Linked DNA regions of Homo sapiens. The protein of the gene in region 2 purifies or fractionates together with the protein of the main gene of each other region. This does not show direct contact. Each region holds a gene or a part of one and is shown on either strand. Other genes may lie near its edges. The genes, in order: DNAJC11, ARMC1, SYN1 and SYT1.

The links.
Region 1: the proteins of ARMC1 (region 2) and DNAJC11 purify together in Homo sapiens (affinity purification with mass spectrometry; 6 studies listed by BioGRID and IntAct, with this or other methods). This does not show direct contact.
Region 3: the proteins of ARMC1 (region 2) and SYN1 purify together in Homo sapiens (affinity purification with mass spectrometry; 3 studies listed by BioGRID and IntAct, with this or other methods). This does not show direct contact.
Region 4: the proteins of ARMC1 (region 2) and SYT1 purify together in Homo sapiens (affinity purification with mass spectrometry; 3 studies listed by BioGRID and IntAct, with this or other methods). This does not show direct contact.

The regions. Positions count from the first base shown.
Region 1 is NC_000001.11:6,691,796-6,698,839, forward strand, and holds part of DNAJC11 (dnaJ homolog subfamily C member 11), read right to left. Parts: intron 1-7,044.
Region 2 is NC_000008.11:65,631,178-65,638,743, forward strand, and holds the start of ARMC1 (armadillo repeat-containing protein 1), read right to left. Parts: upstream 3,001-7,566; 5' UTR 2,821-3,000; intron 2,749-2,820; exon of another isoform or gene 1,721-2,748; intron 1-1,720.
Region 3 is NC_000023.11:47,571,394-47,574,894, forward strand, and holds the end of SYN1 (synapsin-1), read right to left. Parts: intron 3,383-3,501; coding exon 3,295-3,382; intron 3,198-3,294; coding exon 2,609-3,197; intron 1,607-2,608; coding exon 1,471-1,606; 3' UTR 508-1,470; downstream 1-507. Other genes in the region: ARAF (serine/threonine-protein kinase A-Raf), read left to right, coding at 1-64. UniProt on the Homo sapiens protein: Neuronal phosphoprotein that coats synaptic vesicles, and binds to the cytoskeleton. Acts as a regulator of synaptic vesicles trafficking, involved in the control of neurotransmitter release at the pre-synaptic terminal.
Region 4 is NC_000012.12:78,860,052-78,867,775, reverse strand, and holds the start of SYT1 (synaptotagmin-1), read right to left. Parts: upstream 3,003-7,724; 5' UTR 2,667-3,002; intron 1-2,666. UniProt on the Homo sapiens protein: Calcium sensor that participates in triggering neurotransmitter release at the synapse. May have a regulatory role in the membrane interactions during trafficking of synaptic vesicles at the active zone of the synapse.

The DNA.
Region 1 (7,044 bases), on a different chromosome or scaffold from region 2:
CTCCTTCCAGGGACTGCAATCTGTACCAGGCATATGCTGTAACAGTGGTAATAATGCAGCAATGTTCTCAATTGTCTTCTTTTTAAGAAATGTGTGACTCCTTTAAAAAATATATGCTATTTTATTTTTTCATCTGTTGTCTTACATCCTTTCTTAAACAAAGGTGTAAGTAAGTAAAATTAAAATGAAAGGTTAATAAAAAGCAGACAATAAAATTCTACAGCCAAGCAAAGCATGTTGCTCTCATGTCCCGTTTTCCATTGTTTTATTACTAAATTCACAGCAAATACAAAAGTTTTCCATTGAATTCTCTTTAAGAAAGAAAATAAAAGAGGTGTTTTGGTAGATAATGCAAAATTAGAGCATTAACATTTCAAGAAGCAATTGTTTGAAATGCCCAAAGCAGAAAATAACTGGCTTATAGATCATTAAAGAAACACATTGTGAAATGTAACCTCACGTTTGCCAATCACATTATGAGATGACATTGGAAGTGGTGGGGCATCCTCAACAGCCCCCTCCCTGCACACAGGCAGCTTCTCTAAACTCCACTTCCCGGGCACCCTCTTGGGCCCACCCCTGCCCCCAGCTCTGCCTCCTCTCTGCTTGGCTCACAACTATCCTATCTTTACCCCAAACACCCAAAAAATGTTATCCTTGAGCCTGCACCCTACTCCCATACTTAGCCCCAACTTCCAGGAAAGCTCCCTATCCCCATGTCAACTTTCCAGGAAGCACAAGTTCAGAGAGATCACTGTCTTTTAAAAAGAACAAACTCAGTGTTTTGAACAGAAAGTAAAAAATGCTTCAGGAATTTTTTTTTTTTTTTTTTGAGATGGAGTTTTGCTCTTGTTGCCCAAGATGGAGTGCAATGGCACGATCTTGGCTCACTGCAGCCTCTGCCTCCCGGGTTCAAGTGAATCTCCTGCCTCAGCCTCCCATGTAGCTGAGATTACAGGCATTTGCCACCACGCCTGGCTAATTTTTGTATTTTTAGTAGAGATGGGGTTTCTCCATGTTGGTCACGCTGGTCTCAAACTCCCGACTTCAGGTGATCTGCCCGCCTCAGCCTCCCAAAGTGCTGGGATTACAGGCATGAGCCACTGCGCCCAGCCTCTTTTTTTTTCTTTGACAGAGTCTTGCTCTGTTGCCCAGGCTGGAGTCCAGTGGCACAATCTTGGCTCACTGCAACCTCCGCCTCCTGGGTTTGAGCAATTCTCCTGTCTCAACCTCCCAAGTAGCTGGGATTACAGGCGAGCATCACCACACCCGGCTAATTTTTTTTTTTCGTATTTTTAGTACAGACAGGGTTTCGCCATGTTAATAAGGCTGGTCTCAAACTCCTGACCTCAGGTGATCTGCCCGCCTCCGCCTCCCAAAGCGTTGGGACTGTAAGGCGTGAGCCACCACACCCAACCTCAGGAATTTCATAAACTAATGCTTAGCATACATTCTAGCACTATGATTTTTAGTAATATTACAAGTGGATAGCAAAGTTCATCCTTAGCCAGGATGAAGCATACCAAGTATGTCTTTCACATTTTTAAATTTATTTATGTACATGTATGTCTTTCACATTTTTATTTATTGTTATATTATCGTTTAGATGGATTCTTGCTCTGTCGCTCAGGCTGGAGTGCAGTGGTGGTGCGATCTTGCTTCACTGCAAACTCCATCTCCCGGGTTCAACCAATTCTCTTGCCTCAGCCTCCCGAGTAGCTGGGATTACAGACGCCCACCACCACACCCAGCTAGTTTTTGTATTTTTAGTAGAGACAGGGTTTCACCATGTTGGCCAGGCTGATCTCGAACTCCTGACCTCGTGATTCACCCGCCTCAGCCTCCCAAAGTGCTGGGATTACAGGCATGAGCCACCACGCCCAGCCTTTTATTTATTATTATTTTTATAGACGGAGTCTCGCTTTTTATAGACAAAGTCTCGCTCTGTCGCCCAGCCTAGAGTGTGGTGGTGTGACTGCAGCTCACTGCAGCCCCAAACTTCTAGGTTCAAGCAATCCTCCTGTAACCAAGTACCCCCATTTTTTTTTTTTTTTTTTTTTTGGAGACAGAGTCTCGCTCTGTTGCCCAGGCTGGAGCACAGTGGTGCGATCTCTGCTCACGGCAACCTCCACCTCCCAGCAGAGATTCTCCTGCTTCAGCCTTATGAGTAGCTGGGATTACAGGCGCCCGCCATCAAGTCTGGCTAAGTTTTGTATTTTTAGTAGAGATGGGGTTTCACCATGCTGGCCAGGTGGGTCTTGAACTCCTGACCTCAAGTGATCCGCTGGCCTCAGCCTCCCAAAGTGCTGGGATTCACAGGCATGAGCTACCATGCCCAGCCCCATTTTTTCTAAGAGATAGTTTAATTATTTTCTCCTCTCCCCCTTTCCCCGGTACCCTGCTTCCTACTTAGCCCTTTAGAAATGCAAATATAACCTTTCCCCTCCCCCTCACCAGACATCTTCTATGGGGCAAGTTCAGCTAACTACGTGCTCCAAGACGGATCTCTTGACAGTGGATTTGCAGACCAAATCATGTCCCCATGGCCACTTTTACTTCTTTCTGCCCAGGAAGATGCCAACTCAATTGCCAGTTAGATAAAGTACCCAGATAGCAGGGGGACCCCTGCCCTTGCTCATTTCCTCCTATACCTTATAAAAGTGCCTGCTTTCTGCTCTAAAAGTGAAGCGGTACAGCAGGACATCGTGCCCCTTCCCCAAGCTGACTTCAGAGTAAATTCACTGGCTTTGTATGCGCCTCACTCTTGTTAACTGGACTCTGCATGCGGTAAACAACTGACCTGCTTTTCGGCTGCACCTCCACCTTAGGCTGGACTACAGGTTACAGCTCATGCCACCATGCCCAGCTAATTAAAAAAAATTTTTTTTGGCTGGGCGCGGTGGCTCACACCTATAATCGCAGCACTTTGGGAGGCTGAGGCGGGCGGATCACAAGGTCAGGAGATCGAGACCATCCTGGCTAACACGGTGAAACCCCGTCTCTACTAAAAATACAAAAAAAAAAAAAAAATTATCCAGGCATGGTGGTGGGGGCCTGTAGCCCCAGCTACTCAGGAGGCTGAGGCAGGAGAATGGCGTGAACCCGGGAGGCGGAGCTTGCAATAAGCCGAGATCGCACCACTGCACTCCAGCCTGGGCAACAAAGCGAGACTCCGAATCAAAAAAAAAAAAAAAAAAAAAATCAGCTGGGCGTGGTGGCAGGTGCCTGTAGTCCCGGCTACTCGGGAGGCTGAGGCAGGAGAATGGCGTGAACCCAGATGGCAGAGCTTGCAATGAGCCGAGATTGTGCCACTGCGCTCCAGCCTGGGTGACAGAGCGAGACTCTCTCAAAAAAAAAAAAAAAAAAATTTTTTTTTTTAATTAAAGATGGAGTCTTGCTACGTTATGCCAACCCAGGCTGGTCTCAAACTCCTGGACTTAAGTTATCCTCCTGCCTTAGCCTCCTAAGGTGCTGGAATTACAGGTGTGAGCCACCCCCCAATCCTTATGTCTTTTTTTAAAGTAAGCAAAACTTCAAACTTATCAAAATCCAAGAAATAACAATATATATTAACTAAATACCTACTTATGACAGGCAATTTATATACATTCTCAGCACCTAGCAACGCACATACCACACAGGTCATCCTGGCCTACAGTAAGTGCTTAAGCCATTATTACCTGTTACCTACATTCTAACATTAAAGAAACTGATGGCCAGGTGCAGTGGCTCATGCCTGTAATCCCAGCACTTTGGGAGGCCGAGGCGGATGGATCACGACGTCAGGAGTTTGAGACCAGTCTGGCCAACATAGTGAAACCCTATCTCTACTAAAAAAAAAAAAAAAAAAAAAAAAAAAAAAATTAGCCGGGTGTACTGGTGTGTGCCTGTAATCCCAGCTACTTGGGAGGCTGAGGCAGGAGAATTGCATGAACCTAGGAGGTGGAGGTTGCAGTGAGCTGAGATTGCGCCATTGCACTCCAGCCAGGGTGACAGTGTGAGACTCCATCTCAAAAAAAAAAAAAGAAATTGAGAAACAGAAAGGTTAAATTACTAGCGTTGAAGCATAGAACTTCCAGAAGAGTAAAATGGGATTTGAATACTGGACTCCAGCTGCAAAGCCCTACATAGTGGCCTCCCTCTATCCCATTGTTAACTAAGAAGTACTGGTGCCTCCATTCTGCAGGTAAGTAGAGGCTGAGGTTAAATGACTCGTTGAAGGTCACACAAGAGGCAGGCAGCATGGGCTGAAATTCTTGCTTCTCAGCCTCTTGGCTTACAGAACACCCTATGGAATGCAGACATCTGAATAAGTTGTTTTTGGACAACCGAGGCTTAATTCTATGTGCCTGAGGCACACATTTAACTGGAGTCATTATAAATATCAAACTTTAACATAATGTAGTAGATGGAAAATGAAGGAACTGACCTTTTCAGAGCCATCTTTATTTTTTATTAAGACAAAATTAACTGCCCATCATGAAGTTTGATAAGAAAGCAATAAATGTGTAAACACACACCACCTCACTGCTTTAGGTATTTGAGTCGCTCAAATTGGCACAGTTGAGCCTTTTACATGTCAATTTCTGCAGATGGCTGAGTCAGTGGTCCTGATTGGAGGGTCTGCTGTCTCCTTCTTTGTGGGTGACTTTGACCCTAGGACAATCTTGCCAGTGACCAGGGGACCTTCCTCTACTCTTCTAGCCCTTCCTTTCCATCTGCAGCTCAAACTCAACTGTTGGGCCTCACTCTGTGGCTGTAACCTGCAGCTAAGGAAACCCCAACAACACACAATTGTGAAAATAATGATCTACCCTGTACCAGAGAAGGAATGAAAATGCAGGGACTTGGGGTAAACTTTTTACTGGTAGGTGATACTTTTGTACTTCTAGTTTCATGGCTGTTCTGGAAGGATGAAGATCTCAGAACACTGACCTCCATATATGGACTGCAAGAAAAAAACTATTTATTAACAACTTCATTTTTTACTTAACTGTGTTTTTCCAAAAGTGTTTAAAAGTTGAAAAGGAGGATGGCTCCTTAAGGTTAAAACAATTGGGACCAGAGGTCTTCAAACAGGTTACAAACACTGCAAAAATGAAATTCTTTCAAAGACAATGATAAAGTTAGAACTGTAGCCATTTGTCTTGGGAATAAATTAGGTTTGAAATGTGTCAATTAAATTTCCTAATTAATGGATCAGGTAAATTTAACTCTGATTTATAGTTAAGGAATCCTTTCTCCAAATAAATTTTGGAAAATCATCCTGGAAATCTCAGAGGAGTGAGATTTTAGGAACCAGATGATGCATCTAACACTAAACCAGAAAACCTGTCTGGCTTTGGTGTGCCCAGTGAGTGATAAAGTACTCCCTCCTCTCAGTGTGAGGCAGGCACGACAGATGATGGCCCTGCTCTGTAAACAGGAAATCTAGAAGGAGAATCATTAAAGATCATGTGTCTTGTCATAGGAGAACGGGGGGTCCTTTCCAGCTGCCTGCTTCACTCTCTCCAACGGCGGCAACAATGGGGTCTCCAACCTTTTAGCACCACGGACTGGTTTCATGGAAGATAATTTTTCCACAGACTAGTGGGAGTGGAATGAAACTGTTCCACCTGGGATCATCAGGCATTAGTCAAATTCTCATAAAGAGGACCTAACCTAGATCCCTTGCATGTGCAGTTCCCAATAGGGTTCATGCTCCTATGAGAAGCTAATGCCACCACCAATCTGACAGGCAGAGCTCAGGCGGTGATGCTTGCTTGCCCGATGCTAACCGCTTGCTTGCCCGACGCTAACCGCTTGCTTGCCCACCACTCACCTCCTGCTGTGCGGCCCAATTCCTAACAAGCCACAGACCAGTACTGGTCCATGGCCAGGGGGTTGAGGACCCCTGCTCTAGAATACAAATTTAAGGGGATATTTTAAAGTTTAAATCCTGGAGAGGGAGATTCTTCAGCTGATTGTTGACATTTCTATATTAATCCAATTATATACCTCTATTATGCTTATAATTTTTTTTTTTTTGAGACAGAGTCTTGCTCTGTCACCCAGGCTGGAGTGCAGTGGCGCAATCTCGGCTCACTGCAAGCTCCGCCTCCTGGGTTCACACCATTCTCCTGCCTCAGCCTCCTACAGGCGCCCGCCACCACGCCCGGCTAATTTTTTGTATTTTTAGTACAGACGGGGTTTCACCGTGTTAGTCAGGATGGTCTCCATCTCCTGACCTCGTGATCCGCCCGTCTTGGCCTCCCAAAGTGCTGGGATTACAGGCTTGAGCCACGCGCCCAGCCTATGCTTATAATTTTAAAGTAGGATTCCCTGGTTTTGTCTAGAATTGTTTCCATTTGAGATTTCTAAAGAAAACTCTCTGAACTCTACTGAACATTGAGAGTTTTGAGGACACTCTTTTGAAGGTACTTTGAAGTATCAGTGGGAACAGGGCCTTGCCTCTCACAGCTATACTTAAATGGCAACTACTCTAGAACTGACAGCAAACACACAAACAGGTATTAAGATATTCTTCCAACCACACATTAAGATTTAAGATTACTCTGACTTTTTTCCAACTAAATCACGTTATTTCAACTTCACGTTTGATTTCACACAAAAAATTCCAGCAAATATCAAGTTCAGACATCACCTTCAGAGCTTCTAATGGAATCCCGGGATGGAAAACCAGCACACCACACCTGAGTATGACATTTAACACCGAGTTTGCTGACGAAGACAACAGAAAGTGACTTCTGCAAGGGAGCATGTTTCATATGGATTTAACCTATAGCCATATAGCCATAAATATGGAAAGTGCCTTCACTCATTGGGAGAAGTAAAAAAAAAAAAAAAATTTAAGAAATATTTTTTGGCTGGGTGCAGTGGCTCATGCCTGTAATCCCAGCACTTTGGGAGGCTGAGATGGGTGGACTGCTTGAGCTCAGGAGTTTGAGACCAGCCTGGGCAACACAGTGAGACCCTGTCTCTACAAAAACTACAAAAATCAGCCAGCTGTGGTGGTGTGTGCCTGTAATACCAGCTACTCTGGTG
Region 2 (7,566 bases):
ACCTTGATATTCTTGATGATAACAAGTTACTCTGACATCCATTTCTAACTACCACATTGCCTGAATTTTTGGGGGGGAACAGGGTCTCACTCTGTCACCCAGGCTGGAGTGGCGTGGTACGATTTCGGCTTATCACAACCTCTGCCTCTCAGGTTCAAGCAATTCTCCTGCCTCAACCTCCCAAGTAGCTGGGACTACAGGTGCCTGCCACCATGCCCGGCTAATTTTTTATTTTTAGTAGAGACGGGGTTTCGCCGTGTTGGCCAGGCTGGTCTTGAACTCCTGACCTCAGGTGACCCACCCTCCTCGGCCTCCCAAAGTGCTGGGATTACAGGCGTGAGCCACCACGCCTGGCCATTGCTTGAATTCTGTTAAATGATCAATATTTCTGTGGATTGCAGCGTTCACAAAGCAGATTTTATGAGATAGCAATAGAACAGTTAGGAAACTGAAAACAGATAAACGAAAGTTACAACTCTAACCCCAATCATGTATTAGATACATATTATGTTTCTGTGTTAATTTCATCAACTTCACACACTCAAGCTGTTTGATAAAAATGTCCGCCTTTGCTGGGTGCAGTAACTCAGGAGGCTGAGGCAGGAGACTGGTTGAGGCCAGAGTTCAAGTCTACAGTGTGCTATGATCTTGCCTGTGAACAGCCACTTTACTACAGCATGGACAACATAGCAAGACCCTGTCTCTTAAAAAAAAAAAAAAAAAGTCTATCTTCATAGGTTGGAAAAAATGATTTTAAATGAATATTTCAGGATTCAGTCTATCCTACCCACTATATGCCCAATTTGGCAAAGTGCAAAATAATTTTTATTTTATTTTTAAGATAGGGTCTCGCTCTGTTGCCCAGGCTGGATGGCAGTGGCAGAGCCACTAAAACTTTATGCTGCTGTATAAATGCATCTCTTTTAAACATGGCTATGAACATATGAATAAAATGCTAAGCTCTAAAACTCTGTAAGATGGCCAGGTACCATGGCTCAGGCCGGTAATCCAAGCACTTTGGGAGGCCCAGGGGGGTGGATCTCTTGAGCCTAGAAGTTCAAGACCAGCCTGGGCAACATGGCAAAACCCCATCTCTACTAAAAATACAAAAGCTGAGGTGGGAGGATCACCTGAGCCTGGGAGCTCGACAGAGTGACAGCTCATCTCAAAATAATAATAATAATAATAAAATTTGGGAGGCCGAGGCGAGCGGATTACGAGGTCAGGTGATTGAGACCATCCTGGCTCACACAGTAAAACCCCGTCTCTACTAAAAATACAAAATATTAGCCAGGCGTGGTGGGGGGCACCTGTAGTCCCAGCTACTCGGGAGGCTGGGTCAGGAGAATGGCGTGAAACCGGGAGGCGGAACTTGCAGTGAGCCGAGATTGTGCCACTGCACTCCAGCCTGGGCAACAGAGCGAGATACCGTCTCAAAATAATAATAATAGTAATAATAAAATAAAACTCTACAAGACGCCGGGCACAGTGGCTCACGCCTGTAATCCCAGCACTTCGGGAGGCCAAGGCCTCTGGTACTCCAGGGGTTGAGGCAGGAGAATCGCTTGAACCCGGGAGGCGGAGGTTGCAGTGAGCCGGGATCGCATCACTGAACTCCAGCCTGAGCGACAGAGCGATACTCCGTCTCAAAAAAAAAAATAAAAAATAAAGACCATAGCCTCACTAACAAATGATGAAAATGTGAAAAGACTTTTTATACCTTTACTTTCTCTTGTTTAGTTCAACTTGGACAAACAAATCATTCTATGACAAAGAATACTTCTCATCGTTTAATGAGCACTCTGGTCAGTTAAAGGTTCCTGTTAAAAAGCAAATGCTGATTCAGTAGGTGGGAGAGTCTGAGATTCCGCATTTCCAACAAGCTTCCAGGTGAGGCCTATGCTACTTGTCACACTCTGAGAAGCAAGCAGTTAGAAGATACATGTGAGACACCTGTAATTAGGCAGATGCCTGCAAGATTTTTCCTTCTCGTACAGTCAAGATTCACCATTCAATTCAAAGATTTAATTCTCACATGCCAAGAGATGCAGAGGGAATACGTTTAACCTAAATCCTTATTCAGTTAGGTGGGCTTTGATAAAAATAACATAAGCATTGATATTAAATCTGACTTTCCCCTTACTCGAAGAGTTAACTGTAACTTTGAGAAGTTAAGTTCTTAGAGCCTCAGTTATCTCACATAACAATCCTCAGCGGTTATCAGATTAAAGTAAGAACGCGAAATGGTAAAATCAAACACCAGCAATTACCAAACCAGAATACTACTTGCTCATGTGGGGACATCTGTCCTGCCAGGTGTTGGAGGTACCTTCTGCACTGCCCTGACACTTCAGTGCACTAAGTATCACGAAAGGAGTTGCTAACTGCACGAATACCTACCCCCGCCCTCCCAAAACACAGTCTTAAATATAAAAATGGGAACACTGGTCTCTCTTGAATTAAGCCTAACACAACTATGTCTTTCCGCTCTTAGGAGACACGCAGGTGCACAAAACTAACAGAAAGTTACCAAAGAATAACCTGGAGAGATGAAAAGATGAGATGACACCCATTAATAATACTGGGGTTAGTAAAAGTCAGATGTGAGGGGGGACAAAGAAGAAATGAGCAAAGCTAACAGATTCACGGGACACGTGGGGGTAGAGCGTGCTAAAGCGCCTCACTGGGACCCACTACTGGATCTGACAAGAGGCAGGCGGGGCGCCCCTCCCAGGCGGATTCGCTGCCTCGGTACAGGGGCCGCTTCCCGCGGCCTTCCCGGCTCCACTGCTTTGTCTGCCGCCCGTGGACCCCACATACCGCTCCAGAGCTTTAGGAGTCCAGAGCCTGCCACACCATCAGGGCCACACCTACGGATGAGGTAGAGACCCAGGCGGCGCGGAGCGAGCCCTTCGGTTCGCAGCCCCGGCCGCGGCGATCGCAAGCAACCGGACTAACTCAGGGAGCCAAAGAGCGAAGGCGCTGGCGGGCAAAGGCTCTGCAGACTCTTCCCAGGTGACCTGACGCCTCTGTCGCTTATGCCCTCCTATTGGCTGATAATGAGTCCAACGTGAGGATAAAGTATCCAATCAGTGAAGGTCTTTTTAGAGTGAAGCGCTCATAGGTGGTTTAGGGAAATACACTAAGAGTCAAGGGACTGATCCAATGAGGACCCAGGAACACTATATTGGCCCTAACTACTCGCCGTCCACCAAGCCCTAACCGAAGAAATTTGATTCCGGCTGGGAAACTGTCACACCTTCACAACCTCAATACCCAGCTTTGTGGGGCCAGCAGGACTTCTCCGGTCCTGCATTCGGTAATTCAAATTGAGTATTTCTTTAGCAACTCTTGCAATTCTAATAAAGGCAATACCTAATATTTTATTCGCTTCTGTGAGTCTTAATTCATAAATTTTTTTTGTTTTGTGTTTTACTGTGGACGTTAGCACTACATTAGGCGTTCCTTGGATTTTCGTTTATTTCTTCTTGGTGTCCACTGTCTCCCTAGCAGCTTGAAAGACGCAAAGTACAGTTTTCGTTTAAGTAGCAATTTATTTTGGGGAAGAGGTTTTTTTTTTTTTCTTGTAAGGAATTTATTATCACAATCTTCTCAAATTCATATTTTAAAATATCTTCTATGTAGTTTATCAAAGTAAGGATTTATATACTTGTTTTATGGATGGCAATCACTTGAAGTTTTTGTTTAGGCATAGATTTTATTTTTTTTTTAATTTCTTTAAATACAAACCTACTCTTAACCCGCAGGCAGATCTTTGAGAATAATGTATCCATTGCAGTCAATAACCCCAATAAACAGATTCTGGATTCTCTCCATAACAGTTTGATTCGGCCACGTAGCTCATGTATTAAAGTCAGAAGGAATATGAGAGGCCTCTAATAGGAAAAGAGTGTGGATAACAATAAATATCCCAGATTGTATTCAATGCTAATATCTCCTATACTTCTTGAATTTAAAAACCAAGCAGCTACTTCTTGAATTTCTTTCCGTTCCCTTGTTCTCGGTTATCCTCTTGCTTCCAATGAACTCAAAATAGGAGCAAAATAAGCTAAGTAGAAAACAAATAGGCCGGGTGCGGTGGCTCACGCGTGTAATCCCAGCACTTTGGGAGGCCGAGGTGGGCGGATCACTTGAGGTCAGGATTTCGACACCAGCTTGGCCAACATGGTGAAACTCTGTCTCTACTAAAAACCAACCAACAAACAAACAAAACTAACCAGGCGTCGTTGCGGGCGCCTGTAATCCCAGCTACTTGGGAGGCTGAGGCAGGAGAATCGATTGAACCTGGGAGGCTGAGATTGCAGTTAGCCGAGATCACGCCACTGCACTCCAGCGTGGGCAACAGAGCGAGACGGTCTAAAAAAAAAAAAAAAAAAAGTCCAAAGGGCACAGCCAGGTTAAACATAACCCATTTGGTTGAGTTACTTTCTTCAGTATAGTTATTAAAAACAACTAAAAAAAAATCCCAGGAAATTAAACTTGCTATTTTTGTTAACGTTAATATATTAGGAAGGCAGGTACGGGGGCTCACGCCTGTAATCCCAGCACTTTGGGAGGCCGAGGTGGGTGGATCACCTGAGTTCAGGAGTTCGAGACTAGCCTGGCCAACATGGTGAAACCCCGTCTCTACTTTTTTTTTTTTTTTTTTTTTGAGACAGAATTTCTATCTTCCTGCCCAGGCTGGAGTACAATGGCGCAATCTCGGCTCACCGCAACCTCCGCCTCCCTAATTACAGGCATGCGCCACCACGCCCGGCTAATTTTTGTATTTTTAGTAGAGACGGAGTTTCTCCATGTTGGTCAGGCTGGCCTCTATCTCCTGACCTCAGGTGATCCGCCCGCCTCGGCCTCCCAAAGTGCTGGGGTTACAGGCGTGAGCCACCGCGCCCGGTCAGCCGTCCCTACTAAAAATACAAAAAATTAGCCTGGCGTGGTGGCGGGCGCCTGTAGTCCCAGCTACTCCGGAGGCTGAGGCAGGGGAATTGCTTGAACCCATGAGGCGGAGGTTCTAAGCCGAGGTCGTGCCACTGCACTCCAGTCTGGGAGACAGAGCGAGTCTCCGTCTCAAAATAAATAAATAAATAAATACTAAATATAATCATGCTTCTGCCATTATTGAGAAAAGTAATTCTTCCTGCACACTGCCATTACAGAATAGATGACTGCTATTAAGAAGCAGGGGGTGTGTTCACAAAAAAATAATTACCAGTTTCCTAAGCACCTATGGATTATAAGCCTTAGGGAGGTATTTAAAGATTTTAATAATCTGTATTCCCATATTAAAATGTCTAAACTTGGCCGGGCGTGGTGGCTCAAGCCTGTAATCCCAACACTTTGGGAGGCCGAGGCGGGCGGATCACAAGATCAGGAGATGGAGACCATCCTGGCTAACACGGTGAAACCCCGTCTCTACTAAAAATACAAAAAAAAAAAAAAATTAGCCGGTCGTGGTAGCAGGCGCCTGTAGTCCCAGCTGGAGGCTGAGGCAGGAGAATGGCGTGAACCCGGGAGGCGGAGCTTGCAGTGAACCGAGATCGCACCACTGCACTCCAGCCTGGGCGACAGAGCGAGACTCCGTCTCAAAAAAATAAAAAATGTCTAAGCTTGACACCAGTGAAGTTATACTACCTCCCATTGTGAGTCATTGCTTGTTCTTAGCCTCAGGTATCTTCCCACGGGACACTGGAATGTCGTTTCTCAGTAGCTGTGTTGCTTAAGACATGATTCAGATACTGGCAGTTTCATTCATTTAATTATTTAACAACCGGTTTTTGAACGCATACAATGTGCCATAGACAATCTTGACTATGGATTCAAAGGTAAGGAAAATCACAATCCCTGCCCTCAAGCAGCTCATGGTCTAAAGAGCTCAAGAAACAGTGGATTTCAAAACTTTTTGATCAGGCAACACTTTCAGCTTTATATATATGTATTCGAGTACATAGCTCTGACATATTTATATGTATTTATTCCTAAATTCTATACATGTACTATCAAATTAATATGTAGTTTTGAAAATGTCAAAGTAGAAATTTTTAAAGAAAGAGAAATATTTATAAATTGAAGCTCTCACTACCCATCCAGATGAAAATAAAATTGGATCCATATATTACATCATTTACCAAAAAAATAAATTCCAGGTGTATTAAAAACTCAAACCTTGAAGACTACATATATGACCTAGAAGCAGAGGGAAACCTTGAACAAAACTGGAAACCCAAAAGTTAAACAAGAAAAAAAATGGATACATTGGACTTGTTTTAAAAAGCAGCTGGCCAGGCGTGGCGGCTCACACCTGTAATTCCAGCACTTTGGGAGGCCGAGGTGGGTGGATCACTTGAGGTCAGGAGTTCCAGACAAGCCTGGCCGACAATGGCCAAACCCCGTCTCTGCTAAAAATACAAAAATTAGCCAGGCATGGTGGCACACGCCTGCAGTCCCAGCTACTTGGGAGGCTGAGGCAGGAGAATCACTTGAACCCGGGAGGCAGAGGTTGCAGTGAGCAGAGATCACACCATCGCACTCCAGCCTGGGTAGCAGAGCGAGACTCTGTCTCAAAAAAAGAAAAACAGCTCTATAGGTCAGGGTCAATCCCAAGAGCTGGTTTATAGAAAAGAATACCACAATCTCTGGAAAGTGGTGATCCTTTAACCTATTTGGATATAGATTTTTTTTTTTCTGGTCACTATGCACTGATCTAAGAAGAATTAAACTGTTTCAAGACTCAGAACAACCAAATATGCCCCAAAGTCTATGACTGAAACAAAATAGCTCAACAATTTTTCATTGGGCACCATGGTAAAAACATTCATTCAAATTGAGATTTAGATAATAAATGCAGATTAAAATGTTATCTTTTCCCAACAATATGTGCTTTTTTTTTTTCTTCTTTGAGATGGAGTCTTGCTCTGTCGCCCAGGCTGGAGTGCACTGGAGTGCAGTGGTGTGATCACGGCTTACTGCAACCTCTGCATTCTGGATTCAAGTGATTCTACTGCCTCAGCCTCCCGAGTAGCTGGGATTACGGCATGCACCACCACACCTGGCTACTTTTTACATTTTCAATAGGAATGGGGTTTCACCATATTGGCCAAGCTGGTCTCAAACTCCTGACCTCAGGTGATCTGCCCGCCTCGGCCTCCCAAAGTGCTGGGATTTTACAGGCGTGAGCCACCTCGCCCAGCCCAATATGTGCTTTTATTAGTAATTAAAGGAGCTTTGAAGTCAATGGGCACTGCATGCATCACTGACTCTTGCCTCAGGTGAGATGAAGTTGGCCCACTAACTGGTCTTGACCAGCTCTCCTGTAGCCCAGCCTCTCCCAGACACATCTAGCCTCACTGTGTCTCAAAGCACCCTTCAGAAGGGCACTTCACCGTCCTACCCAATAATCTTTTACCATCCATTCCTATATTCTAATGCAGAACCTCCTGAAGCTTATTTCAGTGTGTTACATTTTCTCCAGGGGGCAATTAGAGCTGGGGAAAGAAAAAACAGAACTAGAGGAAAAGGGTCTCAACTTCCAGGAAAGATCCTTTGTAAGCT
Region 3 (3,501 bases), on a different chromosome or scaffold from region 2:
GCACCGCACCCAGGCCGATGAGTTGCCTGCCTGCCTACTCAGCGCAGCCCGCCTTGTGCCTTAGGCCCCGCCCAAGCCACCAGGGAGCCAATCTCAGCCCTCCACGCCAAGGAGCCTTGCCCACCAGCCAATCAATGTTCGTCTCTGCCCTGATGCTGCCTCAGGATCCCCCATTCCCCACCCTGGGAGATGAGGGGGTCCCCATGTGCTTTTCCAGTTCTTCTGGAATTGGGGGACCCCCGCCAAAGACTGAGCCCCCTGTCTCCTCCATCATTTGGTTTCCTCTTGGCTTTGGGGATACTTCTAAATTTTGGGAGCTCCTCCATCTCCAATGGCTGGGATTTGTGGCAGGGATTCCACTCAGAACCTCTCTGGAATTTGTGCCTGATGTGCCTTCCACTGGATTTTGGGGTTCCCAGCACCCCATGTGGATTTTGGGGGGTCCCTTTTGTGTCTCCCCCGCCATTCAAGGACTCCTCTCTTTCTTCACCAAGAAGCACAGAATTCTGCTGGGCCTTTGCTTGTTTATTTTGTTTCCCGACTCTTCTCTTGGGGTTCAGAGCCGCTGAGGGGTGGGGTGAGTCCAGGCAAGGAGTGAAGGTCAGGGGGAGGTGCGGACCACATAAACAGCGTCACTGCACGCATCACCACAGGCGGCACGATGAACGAGGACCACATATGCCAAGCACGGCACAAAAGGAGGCCACGTCAGTCACAGACACAGACACCACAGCAAAGGTGGGGAAGCGGAGACCACTGGCCTTCCGTGTGCAAAGGATTCTGGGAAGATGGGTGGAGTTTGCATATTTAAAGACAGCTGTCAGAGGCAGGAAACTGGGGAGGGGGTCCCTGGGGGAACCGAGGGGTCCTGGAAGTGGGAGGGGCTCCCAAGGTATTGAATGAGGTTGAGGGGAGCTGGTGAAGGGAAATCCTTGTGGGGCTAGGTGTTGGGTGGCATTTGAAGATGTGGATCTTCAGAGGGATGGAAGATCCATGGGAAGGGGCTCAACAGTAGGGGTTTCTTGAGGATTTGGAAAATTATGATGGGAAATAGGTGTGCTGGAGAGATTTGGGACCAAAAATAGGGTTTTCCAGGAACTTCAGGGCTCCAGGAAGGGATTCTGCAATGGGTTGCCTGGTATTTGGGCACTTCCAGGAAGGAAAACGCCCTCTGGGGAAACCAGGGGCGGAGGTCTTCAGGAATGTGGAGGTTCTAAAACAGAAGTAGATCCTGAAGTGACCACGAGTGGGGTTCTAAAAGGACTTGGGGATTCCACATGTGAGAACCGGATTTAGGGCCAGGAGGAGTCAGGTTTCTCAAGGTACTCGGGGATCTTGAGGAATGAGAGGTGGAATCTTGGAGAACCGGGAGATGGGTTCTCAAGGGATTTGGAGACTCCAAAAGTGAGAAATGGATTCAGGGCCCAGAGAAGGGTTGCCCAGGGATTTTGGGGTTCTCAGAGTGGGGTATCAGTCGGAGAAGAGGCTGGCGAAAGACTTCCTCAGGCTGCGGATGGTCTCAGCTTTCACCTCGTCCTGGCTAAGGCTGGGCCTGGGCGGGGCTGGCTCTGGAAGGTTGAAGGCATTGGTCAGAGACTGGGATTTGCTAGAGAGAGACAAGGTGGAGGCGTGGGAGGAAGGGGGAAGAGGAAGGGGAGGAAGGGGAGAGAAACACAACGTTACCCCAGGCCCAGCCCCAGCCCTGCCCCTCTGATCCTGGGGCTGTGCCTGTGACCTCCCCACCTGCCACCATGGGCCTGGACCCTAACAGGTTCTCAAGGCTGGGAGCACTCAGGTGGAGTGGGTGGAGTCCTGGGCCAGGGAGGCGAGATCTGGGACAGGCTGGGAGGACTTGGATCCAGGGTGAAGTGTGGGATTCGTGGCAAGAGTCCTGGGCAGAACCTTCTCTGTGAATTCTTGGCTAGTTTGATACAAAGGGGAAGATGAGCAGGGAAGTTTCCAATCTAAGGGTGAGGTGTCTAGGAGGGCATAGAAAGGGCTTGGACCAAGGACAGGCTGTTGGGCAAGTCAGCCTAAGGCAGAGCAGCTGGGTGGGGCAGGGAGGACGTCTGAGCTGGGATGGGAGTTGGAATGGACCAGAAAAGGCAGATGGGTGATGATTCGCGGGGAGACTGAGATGGGCCAGAAGGATGTGAAGGAGGAGGAAAAGTATGAGGATGGAGTGGGAAGAGCCAGATGATAGGAGGACTAGGACTCGGGCCAGGAGTTTTAGGGATGGGTTGGTGGCGGGGGGGCGAGTTTGGCAGGGAAGGCTCTGGGCTGGGCAGGAAGTTGCAGAGGGTGGGTCAGCCAGGTGCCTGGGAGGCCCTGGAGGAGGAAACTTTCCCAGGGCCTTTGAGGAGGAATTCGAACTGAGTGCAGTTTCTCTGGGATTCTGGCACCAAATTCCTGGGGTGGGGGTGCGGAGCCTCTGGTGGGCCGGGAGGAGCGAAAGCTTGGGGGAAGGGCTTGGCTCAGGCTGGAGAGAGTTCGTGGGACCCCTGCATAGGACCTGGGTCTGAGGAGCAAGGGAGCTAGGGCTGCTCTACTGGGGCAGCGGCCCGCTTTGTGAGCAGCAAGGCGAAGGCTGCTGTAGGGGTCCCCTTACTTGAGCTGGGGGTGCGGAGGTCCCCCTGCAGCGGCGGTGGCGGGTGGCGGCACGTCCTGGCTGGGTTTCTGGGCCAGCTGTGGTTTGGGACGTCCAGCGGGGCCCGGGCCGCTGGGCCGAGGCTGCTGCGTGGTGGGTGGCCCAGTGCGGGGCACGGGACCCGCCTGGCTGGCCTGGCGTGTGGGGCCGGCTGGGCCTGGGGGTTTCTGGGGCGGGCCCTGGCGCTGCTGCCCGCCCGGTGGGGCCCCAGAGGCCTTTGGCGGAGCCGGGCCAGAGACGGATGTCTGACGGGTAGCCTGTGGGGGGCCCGCCTGGCGCTGGGGAGACGGAGAGGCGGGCGGGCGGGCTGCTGGAGGCGCCCCGGGGCCTCCCGCCACTGGCCGGGATTGGCGGCCTTGACCCTGGGTCGGCGGCGCGGCCTGGGACGCGGGCTGCTGGGGCGCTGAGGTGGGACTTGGAAGGCGCTGGGGCAGGGGGCTGCCAGCTGGGGGTCCAAGGCCTGAAAGGTGCTGCTGGCCCTGCGGGGGCGGGCGCTGCTGCAATGGGGGTCCCTGGCGCTGGGGGCCTGGACCCGGCTGTGGAGGGCCGCCTGGGGGACAGAGGGAGAGAAAGAGCACACGTGAGAGTGAGCGGGTAAGAGATGGCGGGCTGAGGGAGGGGACTGCGACCGCCAGCCTCTCGCTTACCCTGTGGTGGGGGTCGCTGCTGAGCCGGGGGCCCTGCGGGCTGCTGGGAGGTCTGGCGGCCCAAGGGCAGGGCCCCTGGGGACGGAGTCTGCGGCAGAGGAATGGAGCAGGAGAGGTTAAAAATAGTTACCAGCCAGTGGAGCATCAGCCAGTGATGACACAGGTTCCCTGTGCGCTGGGTGTTGCCCCACTTGTGGCTGAGCTGAG
Region 4 (7,724 bases), on a different chromosome or scaffold from region 2:
TCTGATAATTTGACCAGATGAAATAACTAATATTCTCCATTATGAAATGAAGTTCAAAACTACTCAGCAACAACTCTCAATCATGTGGTATTTTTGTGAAATTAGTATTTTAGGATTTTCCCTATATATTAGCAGTCTTCAATTCTGACAAAAATACCTCGAGGCATAATTATCATATTTACTCTGAAACATTAATGAGATTTACTAAAATATCCTGTCAAAGGGAGAAAAAACAAAGATTGTATGAAATTGTGACATTAGACTATTTTGTGGGATAACAAAGTAAGAATTTCCTATAATATATCATGTAAGGTCTCTCCCCAATCCACTCACTATATATTGGAATTAGTTCTGATTTCCAATACACAGATATTGAATTTTTTAGAAGTATTTGAAAAACTACTCATATCCATATTTTTAGATGTTATTTCTATAATTAACATTTGTAAAGAGTCATGAAAATAAATGTCACAAACCAAGCCTAAATTTTCACATATTCCTAAGACAGTGGAGAAATGAGAAAACAAAATCTTAATTTTCTCACATGAAGGCAGCTGGCTTCCTTTTTGTACATCTTTTCATGTCTAAACTTGTTAATTCAGTTGTACATACATGTGAGGTAATTAAGTGATTGTCCCTTTGTCCTTGTAACCAAAAGGTGGCACCTCTAAAAACCAGAGTTAGCTTTCAACAGAGACACTATTTTTTTTTTTTTTTCATTTAAATGTCAAAGCCCTAGAAAGAAAATCGTTTTTCGTGACTTGGTAATTCTATTTAGGGAGAGATCATTGCCTCAAATGCAAAATGGTTTGGAAAATAGTACACATTACACTGATGGCAAATGAATTCAGCTCTTCTCTAAGTTGGTGTGTAAACTTATATATTAAACGTACGTAGTGAAAAAATACTCTCTGAGATACAAAATTAGTGTGGAAGGTCAGACACAGTTAAGATAGAAGATTCTCTTTTCTTATATCAAGTGGAGTTCTAGACAAAAAAAAGTAAGACTCTGCATTTCCCCTGATAAATAAAAAGAAGTGTTTTGTATACTAACATCTGTGGATTTCTCTGTGTTCAGGTAAGACCCACTTGGAATGCTTTCCTATTACATCAAACGAGGCATTTCTCTATACCTCCTTCCATCTGACAGTACTATCGCTTAGCTGTCCCTGAAGAATAATAAGAAAAGAAAGCTTATATCCCCAATGATGGAATTAGAGACTGCTGAAGCTGCTGTAAAGGCTCTGTCCAACAAGTACCATTTACTTGACCTATTATGCAGGCAGCCAGGGGCATGTTGGTGTTTTGATATATTTTTCTTTCTTTTAACAAGACGTTACAAAAATGTTTTCCCCTTCAGGATTTTTAAAATTTAGGGTATCTTTCTAGCATTACTTTCTAAACTTAGTTCCAGTACAGGAGGATTCTTGTCCAACTGAGCCTCCATGTGCCTTCTAAAGGGAGTGCTGAAATTGTATAAACATCATGTTTACATCCATTAAATATTGTCCTATTAAAAGAAAATAAAGCCAGGCATAAGTTTGGTATCCAGACAATAAAATGCAAATAGTACAAAGGTAGAATAAAGTGAAAATTCTACACAAATGTAGCTTCCATACAAAAGTTAAACAGTTGCTTTATTTCACGAAAGGGTTAATACTGGAGAAAGTGAATATCAACATGTACACAAAGCTAACTAGAAGATTAGCTTTCTCAAAGTAGAAATCCAAGCCTCCCTATAAAATTGTTGTCCCTTGCAAATGTTTTGAAACTTTACATTTTTTGATCCCCCAACAACAGGCCATACCAAGAAACCTCAGGAAAGTAATAATCTATTTTAATTGTTTTTTTTTTTTTGTTACTCAAGAAAGCTTTCAAAGTTCAGATATTAACACTGATGTGCAATACCAAATTGTTAGCCCCACAGGACAGATGGAAACAGGAAAAGTCAGATGGTTGGCACTCAAAAGCAAAAGCAATTAAGCAGTTGAAAGTGGGTTGGATTGTCGGTTTATTTTTGTTCCATTTGAACGAATCAAGTGAGAGACATAGACTCTTGCAAGGAGGAAATCAAGTCAAACTTGACGCTTCCTCTCTCTGACAGCCCAAGCTGGACTGGTTGTCTACTCCCCTTATTCAGTTTAATTGCTTTATGTGCTCTGATTTTCGCAGAGCTTGTATTCTATCTTGTTTACGTTCCCCCCCCCCCCCATATCCCTCTCCCCAACAGAAAGAAATCTTTCTCCTTTCTTCACTCCCCCTCTTTCCTCTAAGAAAGGCAATCCTCTCCAGGAGGAGAAAGAAACGCTGTGCGTGCTTAGGGTGGGAGGAGGGCGAGAGGGGAGGTGTGGGAGAGAAAGAGAGAAAAGATTGAGATTGGGGGTGGGGGACGGAGGAGAGAGAACAAGAGAAGGAAAGAGGAAGCAAGAAGATGGGGGATGCCCAACATCAACTCCAGGCTCTAAATCACGGGCGCTGTGCAAAGTGCTTTTCCAGGAGATGCACATGTAGTCTCATATTTCTCACAATAGGCCACCCGGGGATCCCTCCCTAGGTCTCAGACTCCCACCACTAAAACCCAAGTGTATCGAGAAGAAAATCTTTGGGATGGATTCGAGCAGATAGGCACCGCCGAGGTGGCCGCGCCGCCAGTCCCGCTTCCTTACCTGGAGGGCGGACCGGGAGGTGGTGCCGGGTCTCGGTCCCCAGTGCTCTCCCCGCGTGGACCGGCGCGAGGCACACGCGTACTCTCGCTGCCTCCGCTCTTGGAGGGGCAGCCTGCAACACAAAAGGGGTGTGTGGGTGTGGGTGTGTGGGAGGTTTTCCAGGGCCACCAGCTGGTCCCACGTGGTCGCCCCCACCCTACACACACCCCTTCGGGGCGCCAAGCCCCCCTCTCGGCTGAGCACCACCCTGGGGACTTGCCCGGGGTGCAGCCTCAAGTTGCCGCTGCTAACTGCTGCTGCCGCTGCCGCTGCTGCAGGAGGAGGTGGAAAGACACTGGGGGCAGTACTCGGTCTAGAGCATCCCCACACTGCAGCTTCTCCAGGAATCCCTCCAGTGAGGAGGCGGCCGCCCATCATCTCCGAGCCCCAGCATCCTGATTGGCTCCACCTCGGGTACGCTGCGCCAAGGAGCCAATCCCCGCGCACTAATAATAGGTGGATCCGTTCAGCCAACATCGCCCATCCCAGTTCTGTTAGTGTCTCTCCATCCCCACAGCGGACAGGGACCTGGGAAGCGGGGTGGAGGCGGGTTGGGGGAGGGGGTGAAGTAAGAGGGGAACAGATCCCAAGGAGACACAATCAAGGGCGTCTGATAAAACCTCTAGGTAGACTCAGGAATGCCCCACAAGCTGTTCAGCAAGCAGTATGCACAGGAGAAAGAGAGCATAATACAAAGCTTTTTTTTTTTTTTTTTTACTCTCAATCAAAACCTACCCTGATACTGAGCATGCCCAGACTGCAACAGCGACCTAGGAGTTTCGATGTGTGTGGGTTCGCCAGCTGTGGGTTTTTGAAAAGCTGGGACCGGGGACAGGAGAGGTAGAAGTTTGTCTTTGGCCATTTAACCCGGCGGAGTTGTGAAAGCTGGGTAGGGTGGGGATGTGAAAGGGTTCCGCACAAGTGTCCTCAAACTGAGCCGCGGGGAGGTGGCCCACCTGGCTGCCGGAGGCTCATCATGCTGTTCTTCTGGGGTTCCGGGTTGGAAGCGGGGGCGGGATAAGCTGAGCTTTGCTGGAAGCCTGGGGACTTCCCGCGAAGGGTGCGGTGGAGCCGAGATGCGGGAGAAGCAGCTCCGTCCCATAGGTGGGGCCGGGAGCGCGACTCCACCCATCAGCGGCGGCTGCCAGGCCGTGGAGAGTGCACTGGGAGTTTCCATTGCAGCGACCAATAAGTTTGTACACTTGGGTCAAGTGCAACATTGTTGGAGATGCTTTTTTATTTTTTCATTTTTATTTTTTGCCACCTCCCTCCCCCATCTCTCTCGACCCCTTGCCAGAGCAGTGACGACTAAAGCATAGATTCTCTCCCTGCTTCCTCTCTTCCCAGCTGAACCGTTCTGCTCGGAAGTAAGAAGCTTTTCTCTTGTGAGGGCGGTGGTGACCTGATTGTCTCTAAGCTCTCAGGCAATTTATAGCTTGGTAATACCGAAATACCGAACAGGAAGGCTCAGCGGGTGGGGGAAGGGACCGCGCGCCAGGCTAGGGGCGGGAGCGGAGCCCAGCTGGGAGAGGGGCCCGTCCATTATCTGCTCCACAGGTGAAAGGATTTCAAAACGGAGAGAACTATTTCCCTTTCTCCCTCCCTCAACCTCGTTTAAAGGCCTTTGAACCTCTTATTTGTTTTATTTAGAAATCCTAGCATTTTGTGTAAACTTGATCAATAGCTACAAATGAGAACTCTCCTAATTGGGTTCTTTATTTTACTGAGAAGATTATCTTGGCATCTCAGGTAGGGAAATAAATAGCTATCTCAATTCCCCAAACCCATCCACTTTGAACTGGAGTTTTATTAACATTGGTGTGCAAAGGTAAATGTAGCAAGAATTCAATTAACAGTAACACATTTCTTCAAGTTTTTAATTAAATCTCTTCTACTTATGTAATGTTTAAGATTAAGATCCTTATTCTAAGTATACGGGAAAAGAAGGCAACGTGATATAAATATATCCTTCTAAGTGACAAACACTTGTATTTGGGCTATGCTTGAATAATAGGAAGTTTAACATTAGAGGTAGAAGTGTGAAAATAATGCACCCCAGACTTGTGACTTCATGTAAATATTCACTTTCCATTTTCCAAAATAGTCTCCAAACCTTATTTTAAAATCATTTCATAGTTGGAGAAATAAGATAAAAGAATTTGGTCTAAATTTTATTTCAGTTATTTAGTGAAGGAGAGGAGGAGGAGAAGACAGAGAAGGAAGAAAAACGACAGGATAAAAAGTAGAAGAAGTTGGAGGAGGAGGAAGGGGAGGAGAAGGAGGATGGTGAGGTGGAGGAAAAGGAGAAGAAGGAGGAAGAGAAGACGAAGAAGAATTAAGTAACCCTGTAATTTTGTTGTCCAATAAATATCTTTGGATGAGAAGATTATTATAATATCCACTTAATATAGATCTTTATTCTAAATATATGCCTAGCATACTTTCTAGATTCCAGTGATTAAAACTGGCACATTTATCCTATTTACCAATAGCTGCATGTAGAAAAAAAGTATGCTTATTTTAGAATAAATTAGTCAATAGAATACAAATACAGATTTTAAAATTTTTGCTCCAGACACTGATTTTGTCATTAATATTTTAGTCAATTTCTTTTCCTGTTTACTTCACATCTTACCTAGCAATCTTTCTATTTCAGTGGCCAGAATCCTTGGCAACATGAATGGTATCAGAAGTTTGTAACCCAATGTTCCTTGAGGGAGACTGCAGGTTAAAATAAGAAATGGGCTTTACATGTATATTGTGCTTAACTTTAGAATTGATAACATTTTCTGTACATAAATAATAAGAAGACTCTATTTATATGGTGACTGTAGCTATACTAAGATTTTAACTCTCCCTCCTATTCCTAAATTCTCTCCAAGCTCTTGGGAATGTGTTGAAGACGTCCTCCTGGATCTACTGGGCTGACACAACATTATACTTTGCCGCAAGTGTGTATCATCTCTTTGCCTATTGAAGCAGACTCATTTTTATTAAAAGGAAGATCGGGTCAATTGTTCTGTAGAGACAAAGAGAGAGCTCTTTGTCACTCTTATCATTCCATTTCTTAAGTACTTTTACATCTAGAGTACTTTTGCTGTTGAGAATTAACTTATCCCCTGATTGTATGGTATTTTAAAAATATTATTTTCAGAACTTTTACAAAATCTGTTTAATGTTTTGTTTCCTCTTTCTTCGTTAAAAAAGTGTTATTAATTTTTCTTCACATTTTGCTCTGATCAAGATCTCATTTTCAATATTTTCTTTATTCCTTTTTTATTGGATTCATCTATTTACTACTTTCATGCTTCCTTTGCCATCTATTTTAGGCTACAGGATCAGAATAGAAACTAAATTGGATTGGGGCACTGAGGAGGAAAGTGTGTCTTATGGCAAGAGTGGGAATTAGGGACATTAGAACTAGAAATTCATTAAGTGGAAACTTAGCCAAGGTTTCTGTAAACCACAGAAAGAATACTTAACGTGAGAGAGGTATCAAGAAAATTCTGCAGGTTGTTGGAAAGGCCAGAATTACCTGGTTGATCAATGATACTAAAGAGTTACATTTAATCCGGCTGGGCGCGGTGGCTCACGCCTGTAATCCCAGCACTTTGGGAGGCCGAGGTGGGCGGATCACGAGGTCAGGAGATGGAGACCATCTGGCTAACACAGTGAAACCCCGTCTCTACTAAAAATACAAAAAATTAGCCCGTCGTGGTGGCGGGCGCCTGTAGTCCCAGCTACTCAGGAGGCTGAGGCAGGAGAATGGCGTGAACCCGAGAGGCGGAGCTTGCAGTGAGCCGAGATCCCGCCACTGCACTTCAGCCAGGGTGACAAGTGCGAGACTGTCTCAAAATAAATAAATAATAAAAAAAGAGTTACATTTAATTAAGACTCATACATCATTAAACTTTATATCTTTAGTAGCCACAGTAGTTGTCTGGTAAAAGCTATTTATAAATATCATTACCCAGGATTGTTTCTTTAAAAAAGAAAAATAATTGACTTCTCTAAATTTTTCTATTTTTTTGTTTATTTTTTATATAGATGCAGATCTTACTATTCTTTTCACTTTATATCTGTGTTTCTCAAGATACTGACTTTTTGGTCTCTTTGCAGGACAGATAATTAATTAAATGTTTTCTGGTGTCAGAATTTGGGTAGAATTCCAGCTTCACCACTAATTGGCTATGCCACCTTGAAAAATGTACAAAACCCCTCCAAGTCTCAGTTTTGTCATCTAAAATATGTACATAAGAATACAACATTTATCATTAGGTTTTTTTTCTGGATTAAAAAAAGCAGTGCACATAAAGTGCTAGTTCCAAGCACATAGCAAGAACTTAATGACTATTATTATCATTTTATCATTATCATTGCTGCTACTTCTGCTACTACTATTTTTTTTTTCCAGATTTCTGGGTTATTGGGTTTCCTCCCATCATCTCATCCATTTAAGCCAATAGTGAGCCATAGACTCCTCACCTATGAGCATTAAAGGTAGAAGGGTGTTAATTCATGTTATAAGAACTTTTATTTATTTTTTGATGGGAGGAGTCAGTGTCTAACTCTGTAGCCCATGCTAGAGCGCAGTGACTCAATCATGGCTCACTGCATCCTCCAATTCCTAGGCTCAGGTGATTCTCTCAGCTTAGTCTCTTTAGTAGCTGGGACTACAGGTGCATGCCACAATGTTGGGCTAATTTTTTTTTTCTTTCTTTCTTTTTTTTTTTTTTTTTTTGCCATATTGCCCAGGCTGGTCTTGAACTCCTGGGCTCAAGTGATCCTTCCACCTTGACCTCCCAAAGTGCTGAGATTACACGTATGAGTCACCGCGCCTGGATACAGAACTTTTTTAATACGTAAAATGACAACAGTCATCTGTCTTGCATGTAGTAGTCTTACACTGTAATCATCTACGAGATGAATAATTTAGTTTTTAGGGATGGATACTTAAGCTTTTTTTTCATAAAAACATTTGTTTATATTATTCTTTCAAATTAAGAAATATCCAATTCT